Regions from separate parts of the Homo sapiens genome. Here region 2 is linked to region 1. The links come from fine-mapping of genetic effects on gene expression. A gene starts in region 1. The other region holds a variant in brackets. All regions are shown on one strand. Distances are between the middles of the regions. Region 1 holds the start of RAB33B (RAB33B, member RAS oncogene family). Region 2 has its middle 29 kb from the start of RAB33B-AS1.

Region 1 (4,396 bases):
TTTTTAAAATTTAAGTAGGGCTGAACTGTGTGTAACTGGTGAAATGTTCAAGTTAACAATCCTTACACACGAAATCTCTCACTTCACTGACTTAATTCATTATTTGCTGAATAAACAATAAACTTCCAGTCAGTAGTCAAGAGTTGGCAATCTAGCTGGTAGGACATAACATATAATCATGAAACAGCAAAAACAGTATTCAAAGATTAAATTAGCAATACCCCAAAATGTGTGTTAGAGTTAGCATAAAGAATTTCTGATGTAGTTTACCAAGAGCTAAACTAAAAAGTCCAGAATACAAAAAACAGGGATGCAATGATGTTAGTTTTTTTCACCATCCTTGAAATTCTCCCATTAACCACAGCTCTGAGTTTTCAACTGCTCTTTGTCCTTAAATCTTCAGATTCCCTCCTTTGAATGGGATAGGTAGAGCAGATTAGAAGAAATATATTCCGAGGCTCTCTAATAGTTTCTGGATGATTAACCTTCATGAAAATAACCTCACAGATAAGTAATTAGGATTTTTCAGCCCATTTCTATAAACTAAGTAAACTTTTTTTCTAGTGAACATAACTTGATATATTAGTGACTGTAGAAAGTCTTTCTACAGCAACAGGAATTATATCAAGGCTTTTGCAAATTCCTGGCAACTCCGGGCATGTTTAAGTTCTACTACTCATCTGTTCTGACTATATTTTCATCTGATGGAATAAGCAGTTCATCTCCTTTCCTAGAACTTTTAGTGCTCTACTGTCCCCCTCACTTTAGTTAAGGTCTGCCATGTCCTCCTCTCCGACAGTCCTTGACTTTCCCAATGGCATATTCATCTGCTCAAACAGATGTCACTGCAAAACAAAACAAACTTTTAACAAAAAGCAATGTTTGCATATTTGGGGCCTTTTGTATGACAATATTGCACGTTTCCTCAGAAAAATTCACGGAGATTCTTTAAGGTTGGGGGTTTAATCTATTGATATTTTCCTTAGGTAGACAAAGACAACCTCTAAGTGCGCTCAGTTAATCTTTAACCGCTACATCATCGTCACCCAGGCACTAAGACATAACTAGGGCATAATGAGTTTTATTTCCACCAGGGGCGCCTAGTAACTACCAGGTTCAACGCTCCCAGGTGGCCGACATGTGATGTGCTCTACTGTTTGGGCTGGGGATATTAGCTCAACAAACTCTGGCCACAAGGATCACGCGGATATTCTTGGGGATGCCTAGCGAAATGCGCTGTACCTAGGCCTCGAACTCTCGCCTGCTCTCCGGTGGGCGGTCTCGAACTCCAGCCTGCTCTCCGGCAGCCCACAGCAATGCGCCTGCCAAGACCTTAGGCTGCAAAACTCGCCACGGCCCAGAGCTCGCCTCCAAGTGCGCCCCGCACAGGGCAAGCTTTCGGCGAGGACTCGCGTCCCACCCATCTAGCCCTGGCCGCTGTCCCAACTCCCGCAGTTCACAGAGGCGGCGGCGGTGAGCGCAGCCGATGCCACATCCTCAGCGGCAAGCTGAAGAAACCTGTCTCCTCTCTGGGGCGACCAAACGATACGTCGATGCCGGAACCGACCCGACGCCGGAGCCGTCGGCTCCGTCCTTACCGTTGCTCTCCAGGTACACGCCCCCGTCAAAGGCGGCTCTGCGGCCCTCTCGCGAGAGAGTGCCCGTGGTACCTCCTTCCTCTCAGTTGTCTGTCTCTCCCCGCCCCCGGAGTGATTGCGCGGCTTCCTCCAGAGGGCGGGAACCTTGGACGTGGCGGGGCTGGGTCAGTCAGGGCGCTGGGCCCAGCCTCTCTGCAGGCTGGCCTTCCGCGCTGCCGTGAAGCCCCCGACAGGTCCCACGCCTGCCTAGGTAGACCGGCGCCAGCCCGAGTGACGCCTGGCGTGTGGCCGCGGGCAGGCGGCTCCGTGCGGCGGGGCGGGCGGGTGCCACACCTGTGCGGGCAAGGGCGGGGCGGGAAGGTGCGCAGGCGCGCTCGGGGCTGGTGGGCGGTGGCTCCTGGGAAGTTGCGCAGCCGAACTGGCCGGCTGGGCGCGCGCTCTTGCGGTGGCGTAATCTCTCAGCCTTTCTGTGTCTCCTTTCCTCCGCCTCAGTTTGGGGCGGGTCGGGGGAATGGCTGAGGAGATGGAGTCGTCGCTCGAGGCAAGCTTTTCGTCCAGCGGGGCAGTGTCAGGGGCCTCAGGGTTTTTGCCTCCTGCCCGCTCCCGCATCTTCAAGATAATCGTGATCGGCGACTCCAATGTGGGCAAGACATGCCTGACCTACCGCTTCTGCGCTGGCCGCTTCCCCGACCGCACCGAGGCCACGATAGGGGTGGATTTCCGAGAACGAGCGGTGGAGATTGATGGGGAGCGCATCAAGGTGAGCGGATGGGGAACTGTTGGGGAGGACAGGGTGACAGGTGTCCCAACCCCACCGTGGGCTGGTCGCTGGCCGTGTGCACGGTGTGTGTGCGCTCCATTTTTTTCTCACGCTGATGAGATTGGAGTTGGGGATTGGAAGGATTGCAATACTGCAAACTTCTAAGGCAGCGTTTCTCAGACTTCATTGTGCATGCGATTTACCTGGGGATCTTGTTTTTGAAAATGCAGGCTATGATTTAATAATCTCGCTGATGATGCAGGTGCAGCTAGTCCGTGGACCACACTTTGAGTTCAGGAGTGTAGGGCTTATCTACCGACCCATTTACTGTGTGTGTCGTGTGCTGGGAGTCAGTCAAATATGAACGGAGGAAAAACAGTGAAATTGCGCGAGAATGGAAAATTCATTTAATCAGTAATAGTTATTAAACATTCATTCGAGCAGTGCCTTAGATGTTGTGGAAGTAAAGCCTATTGCCTTTGAGGAAGTACTTAGGTATTCTCTTGCATACAGTTTTGCTGTAGTAGTTTCTTTATGATACTGATTTTAGAAAAATCTATTTTCCTGCAGAAACATTCTATATGTGATAGTTCCTACTCAGGTTGCCAAAAGCATTTCTCATGATGCCACCTCAGACACACGCCCAATTCTTTATTCCCTTTAAGTCGTTATTTTTGGTCCCTGGGACTGGGGACACTGAGTGACAGTAATAGTGGAGAAGGTAGTATAGGCCCCAGGGCAGGTTTGAAGTTCTGAGGGGTTGGAATCTAACAGTGGAATGAGGATCAATGACAAGGCTTAGGCCTCTTGATGGTATAAACCTTAGACACACCTTCATAGCAAGCCACCACTAAATGCCACCTGTTGATGCCACTCCTTAAAACATAGGTGGAACCACCTTGCCTTATACTACTGCTTTAAATCAGCGATCGTCTTTATCTCAGTCTCTTGGTGGGGATGGGGAGTGGTGGGAGAACAGGCTTGCTTTAGACGTTCCTACCCTCGTATCTTAGAGGCAAGAACAATTTATTTTTCAGTTCCCTAATCATCGCCCCCCACCCCAACGGGTTATACTGCTAATGATGGTAGAGGTGAAGTAAGCTGGGTTAAAAGAAATTAACCTTTCTTTGGTGCTTCTGTCTTTTAATTTTTCACATTAGTATTTCATGTCCCATATGAGCTCTCAGTGGTGGTTTTGGAGTTGCTTTGTATTAGGGAATTTAGAAAGATTTGTATACTTGCAGAAGAAAAGATAGAATAAAAGGCTAAACATTTTTCACCAGAATTAGGTTTGGCCCAGAAGCCTTTGGGGTGAAAAATAATGGAGCTTCTGAAGTTCCAAGGGAGTTAAGATTGGGAGAAGCAGGAATCTGGGAAGTACGTGGGCTTTGGAGCCCAACTAACCTGGATTCATATCTGAACCTACGAAAGGGTAGGGATGGGCTGCGTGTCCTTACTAGGGTGACCAACTTTGCCCAAGACTGTCCAGGTTTTAAAACTGGGTCTCACATCCCGGGGACCCCCTGTATTGGGCACACCAAAATAGTTGGTCACCCTGGACCTTAGGCAGATTCTTTAACCTCTCAGAGTCTGTATTTTTCTTCCGAAAAACTGGGATCATGATACCTTATCAGGCTGCTGTGAGGATCAGATGAGGACATATATGAAGCACCTGGTTCATAGTTGGTGCCTTTAAAAAGATTCTTTGTCTTTCCTGGTGGCTTAACATTATTTTTCCTGTTTGCCACCATTAGTTCTGCAGTTGTACACCCAAAGTTGAAAGCAGAGATAGTGGAGGGCATAGGTAGACAGCTAAGGGGAGAGAAATTTAAAAAACAAAACAAAAACAAAAACGGAAGTAGGAAATTCTTTCAAAAGTGGAGAGAATGAGGGTGGGGGAGGAGTTGGGATTTGAGGGCCCTTTATCTGTTCCTGGGTTGCCATTTATACTTAAAGATAACAGATGAATCAGGTGCAAATTTAAGAGATAATAGTATTGAAAAAATATAAAGCATGTGCAGTGTATAAAGTCAATTAC
Region 2 (4,396 bases), 29 kb before region 1:
AAACCTTTTATCAGTAGGTAATGACCTTTTTATTCTAATAATCTTTTTTTGTCTTAAAATCTTTTTTCTGAAATTAATGTATGTATGTGAATTCTTTGTATTAAGATCTGCCTGGTATATGTTTTTCTATCTCTTATCTTCTACTGTTTTGCCTGTATGTTTTCAGATTCTTGTATATGTCATACAGCTAGATTTTTCTTTTCATTTCAGTCTGACAAACTCTATCTTTTAATTGGTAAATGTCATACATTTATGTTTATTGTGATTCTTGATATAGTTGGATTTGTTTATATATCTTTTTTGTTTATATTTGCCTTGCTTTTTCTGAGCTACTATTTTTATAGCCCCAACGTTTTTGCATTTTTTTTTTTTTTTGAGACGGAGTCTCGCTCTGTCGCCCAGGCTGGAGTGCAGTGGCGTGATCTCGGCTCACTGCAAGCTCTGCCTCCCGGGTTCATGCCATTCTCCTGCCTCAGCCTCCCAAGTAGCTGGGACTACAGGCGCCCGCCACCATGTCTGGCTAATTTTTTGTATTTTTAGTAGAGACGGGGTTTCACCGTGTTAGCCAGGATGGTCTCGATCTCCTGACCTCGTGATCTGCCCGTCTCAGCCTCCCAAAGTGCTGGGATTACAGGCGTGAGCCACGGCGCTGGCTGTTTCTGCATTTTTAAAAAACTGACTTTATGGTTAGATTTTTTAAATTCCATTTTTCCTCCACTGAATTGGAATTCATAGCTCTGTATTTATTCCTTTTTTTTTTAACAACTGTCCCTGCATTTTATAAGTGTCTAACTTAACAAAATGTAAAGGCAAACATATCTTAACTTTCCTTTGAAACGAAGTAATGATCTTAGAATAATTTTAATTACATTGACCCTCCCCCAAATGCCTACTTGCTATTGTTATTGGAGGCATTAGTTCAAAACTTCACAAATCGGACCTTATTTTTCTAGACTGATGTTTGGACTGACAAGCTTGTTCACCATTTTATTCACTCACCATTCTATTTTGTACTTCAGACCATTCTTTTATGATAATTTCCTTTTTTTAAGCTCTGACTTAACAAAGCACTTATATTCCAGGTTTGGTTCTAAGTGCTTTATTTTATATTAGTTCATTTAATCCTCATAACAATTCCATGAATACAATTATTGTCAAAATTTTACAAGTGAGAAAAAAAACTGAAGCACAGAGGTGTTAACTCACTTGTCCAGTGTTCCACAGCTAGCAAATGGTGGAATAGGGATTCACACCTATGGAGTCTCCAAAGTGCATATTCTTAACTCCTGTGAAATACTATCTCTCAACTACAGTCACACATCACTTAATGATGGGATACATTCTGAGAAAGGTGAAATGTGTCCTTACGTGATTTCATCATTGTGCAAACCACAGACTGTACTTACACAAACCTAGATGGTATAGCCTACTACATATTTAGACTATATGGCATAGCCTTTTGCTCCTAGGCTACAAACCTGTATAGCATATTACTGTACTGAATAGGCAACTGTAATACGAGTATGTATTTGTATATCTAAACATAGAAAAGGTCCAGTAAAAATACAGTATTACAGGTTGCGTATCCCTAATCCTAAATCCTTAGGACAAGAAAATTTTGGTTTTGAATTTTTTTTTTATTTTGGAATATTTGCATGATACTTAGTGTTGAGCATCCCTAACCTGAAAATCCAAAGAAATGTTCCAAGGAACCTTTCCTTTGAGTATCATGTTGGCACTCAAAAAGTTTCAAATTTTGGAGTATTTTGGATTTTGGATTTTTGGATTAGCAATACTCAGCCAATATAATCTTATGGGACCACCATTGTATATGCGGTCTGTTATTGACCAAAACTTTGTCATGTAGTGCATGACTATATGTCATTTAGGAGTTT[T/C]GTGCATATCTCTGAGCTAAACTCTCAATTATCACTTATCTTTAAATGTCTCTATTTCACTCTTCTTAAAAGGTAGTCTGGGCAAGTACATAATTCTAGTTGACCATTATCTTTTGGCACTTGAAAGGTATTATTCCATTAACTTCTGGTTTCCATTGATGCTGATAATAAATCCACTGTCATTTTCACTGCTGTTCTTTTGCAAGTGATCTGCCCTTTCTAGCTGCTTGTAAGATCTTACAAATTCTGCAGGTTCTTTATACAATGTCATTATACATTTCTGTTTATGTATCCTGCTTTCATTATCTTGTGACTCCCAGATCTGTTAATTCATTTTTTTCATCATTTCTGCAAAAATCACAGCACTATTTATCTAAATGATACCTCTCATTAGAACACTTCTTACCAGTGGGAGGTAAAGGGCAGGGATTGACTAGCAAGGGGCATAAGGGAATTTTCTGAAGAGCAGTATATGGTTTTTTTTGACAGTTTGTGTTACACAGGTATATGCACTTGTAAAAATTTACCAAATATTGTACTTAAGATCTGTGCATTTTATTGTATGTACATTTTAAATACAAAAAAGCTATAGAACAATACTGAATACTAATGATGAACATACTAAAATGTTTAGTGGTGATGTCTACAACTTACTCTGAAATGCATAAAAAATAGGATTGATGGATGGTTAAGTGGATAGCTATATGATACAGTAAATATAACAAAATGTTCTAGAATTAATTGGTAAATGTAAAAGTTCACTGTGTAATTCTTTCAACTTTTCTGTATGTTTGAACAATTTCACAAAATATTAGGGGGCAGGGAGTATTGCCTCTACTTTTTTCCTTCTTTTCTTTCTTTCTGAGATTTCAATTAGTCATATGTGTGACTTTCTTATCCAAGCTTCCATCTCTTAATATTGTTTTCATATTTTTACTTCCTTGTCTCTCCTTAGTATACCCTGGGTAATTTTTAAAGATATCTTCTCATTTATTTTTTAAGAGACAAGGTCTCCCTCAGTCGCCCAAGCTGGAGCACAGTGGCATAATCATAGCACTCTGAAGCCTCAAACTCCTGGGCTCAAGTCATGCTCTGCTTTAGCCTTTTGAGTAGCTAGGACTACAGGCATACACTAACATGCCCAGCTAATTTTTAAACTTTTTTGTAGAGACAGGGTCTCACCATGTTGTCCAGGTTGGTCTTGAACTCCTAGCCTCAAGTGATCGTCTCACCTCGGCCTCCCAAAGTGCTGGGATTATAGGCATGAGCCACCTCAGTGGCTTCATTTATTAATTCTCTCTTCATCTGTATCAAATTTGCTCTTTAACCTTTCCACTGAGTTTTGTTATTCTAACAATTATATTTTATATTTCTAGAGCATCTCCCCATCTCCCAACTACCTTCCAACCTGTCTGTCCATTCCTGGTAATCTCTTGCTCATCTTTATAACATCCTTTACCTTTTAAAATATTCAGAACACAGAAATTCTATACTTTTCATATCTGTCAATTCCACTACCTACAGTCCTTGGAGTTACACATCTACTGAAGTTTATTTCTGCAGACACTCATAGCAGTTTGGCTTTTTGGTGTATTTTTCTCTGTGTGCTACAGCTTGAATAGCTTCTATTGCTATGTCTTCAAGGTCATCAATCTTTTCTTCTACATTAAATTTGCTTTAAGCTCCTACAGTGATTTAAATTTTTTTCAGATATTGCATTACATAAGTCTAAAAGCTGCATTTCATTGTTTTTCATATCTTCATTTTTTCTTATGTTCATATTTTCTTGTAAATTCTTAATTATATTAGTAATAGCTGTTTTAATGGTTTTTTTTGTGCTAATTCCATGATCTCTGTCATTTCTGATTCTATTGACTGATTTTTCTTCTGGTATGGATCATATTTTGTTGAATCTTCATGTGTCTAGTAATTTTTTATTGTATAGTTGTAACTGCTACATTGCTTAGTATCTTGATGTTGTGAAGTTGTTTCCTTCTTTTACACAGTGTTGAATCCTGTTTCGGCAGGTAGTTTTTTTTTTTTTTTTTTGAAACAGAAGTCATCAATGGTGACATGCTGGATGCCACAGATGGTGGCACTCTGCCTCATGTATGTCTTGACAGTGTGTGCAACTTCTCATCTCTCCAGAAGGTCGGGTGGGTCAGCAGGTCCACGATGTAGGTCCCCATTGTGTCAGACCCCTGCTGCCCGTGAGCTCGTCACAGATCCAGCTATGGCTGGGGCTCAGCAGGCTGCCTGAGTAGATGCAGGTGTCGCAGATCATCATCACTCCTGCGTAGTGCTTCGAGACTGGTTGCTTCACCTGCACACAAAGGCAGGTAGGAAATGCAGCATGTTCCCCACCACGTTCATCAGCTGCAGGCAGTTAACACAAGGCCATCACCATCCAAAAGGCATCCACTGATGTTGCTGTGTTCTTGCAAACCACAGTCTTCCCAATACCCTGATGGACTGTGTATTAGTCTATTCTCACACTGCTA

What was found. PIP is the estimated chance that this variant, and not a neighbour inherited with it, causes the effect.
Region 2: its variant is the best candidate, but not a certain one, in a credible set for the expression of RAB33B in whole blood (TOPMed, PIP 0.62).

What each region holds. Positions count from the first base shown.
Region 1 is chr4:139,452,087-139,456,482 of GRCh38, forward strand. It overlaps RAB33B (RAB33B, member RAS oncogene family), which reads left to right and starts at 2,035. Exons shown (of 2, transcript NM_031296.3): 1 at 2,035-2,358. The coding sequence starts at 2,110. It overlaps RAB33B-AS1 (RAB33B antisense RNA 1), which reads right to left and starts at 1,955. Exons shown (of 1, transcript NR_159964.1): 1 at 1-1,955. RefSeq lists enhancers at 1,323-1,662, 2,283-2,332 and a silencer at 1,733-2,062.
Region 2 is chr4:139,422,899-139,427,294 of GRCh38, forward strand. It overlaps the pseudogene LOC100421868. Among named protein-coding and RNA genes, the nearest start is that of RAB33B-AS1, 29 kb to the right of the region's middle. The variant T/C (reference allele first, on the strand shown) is at 1,896.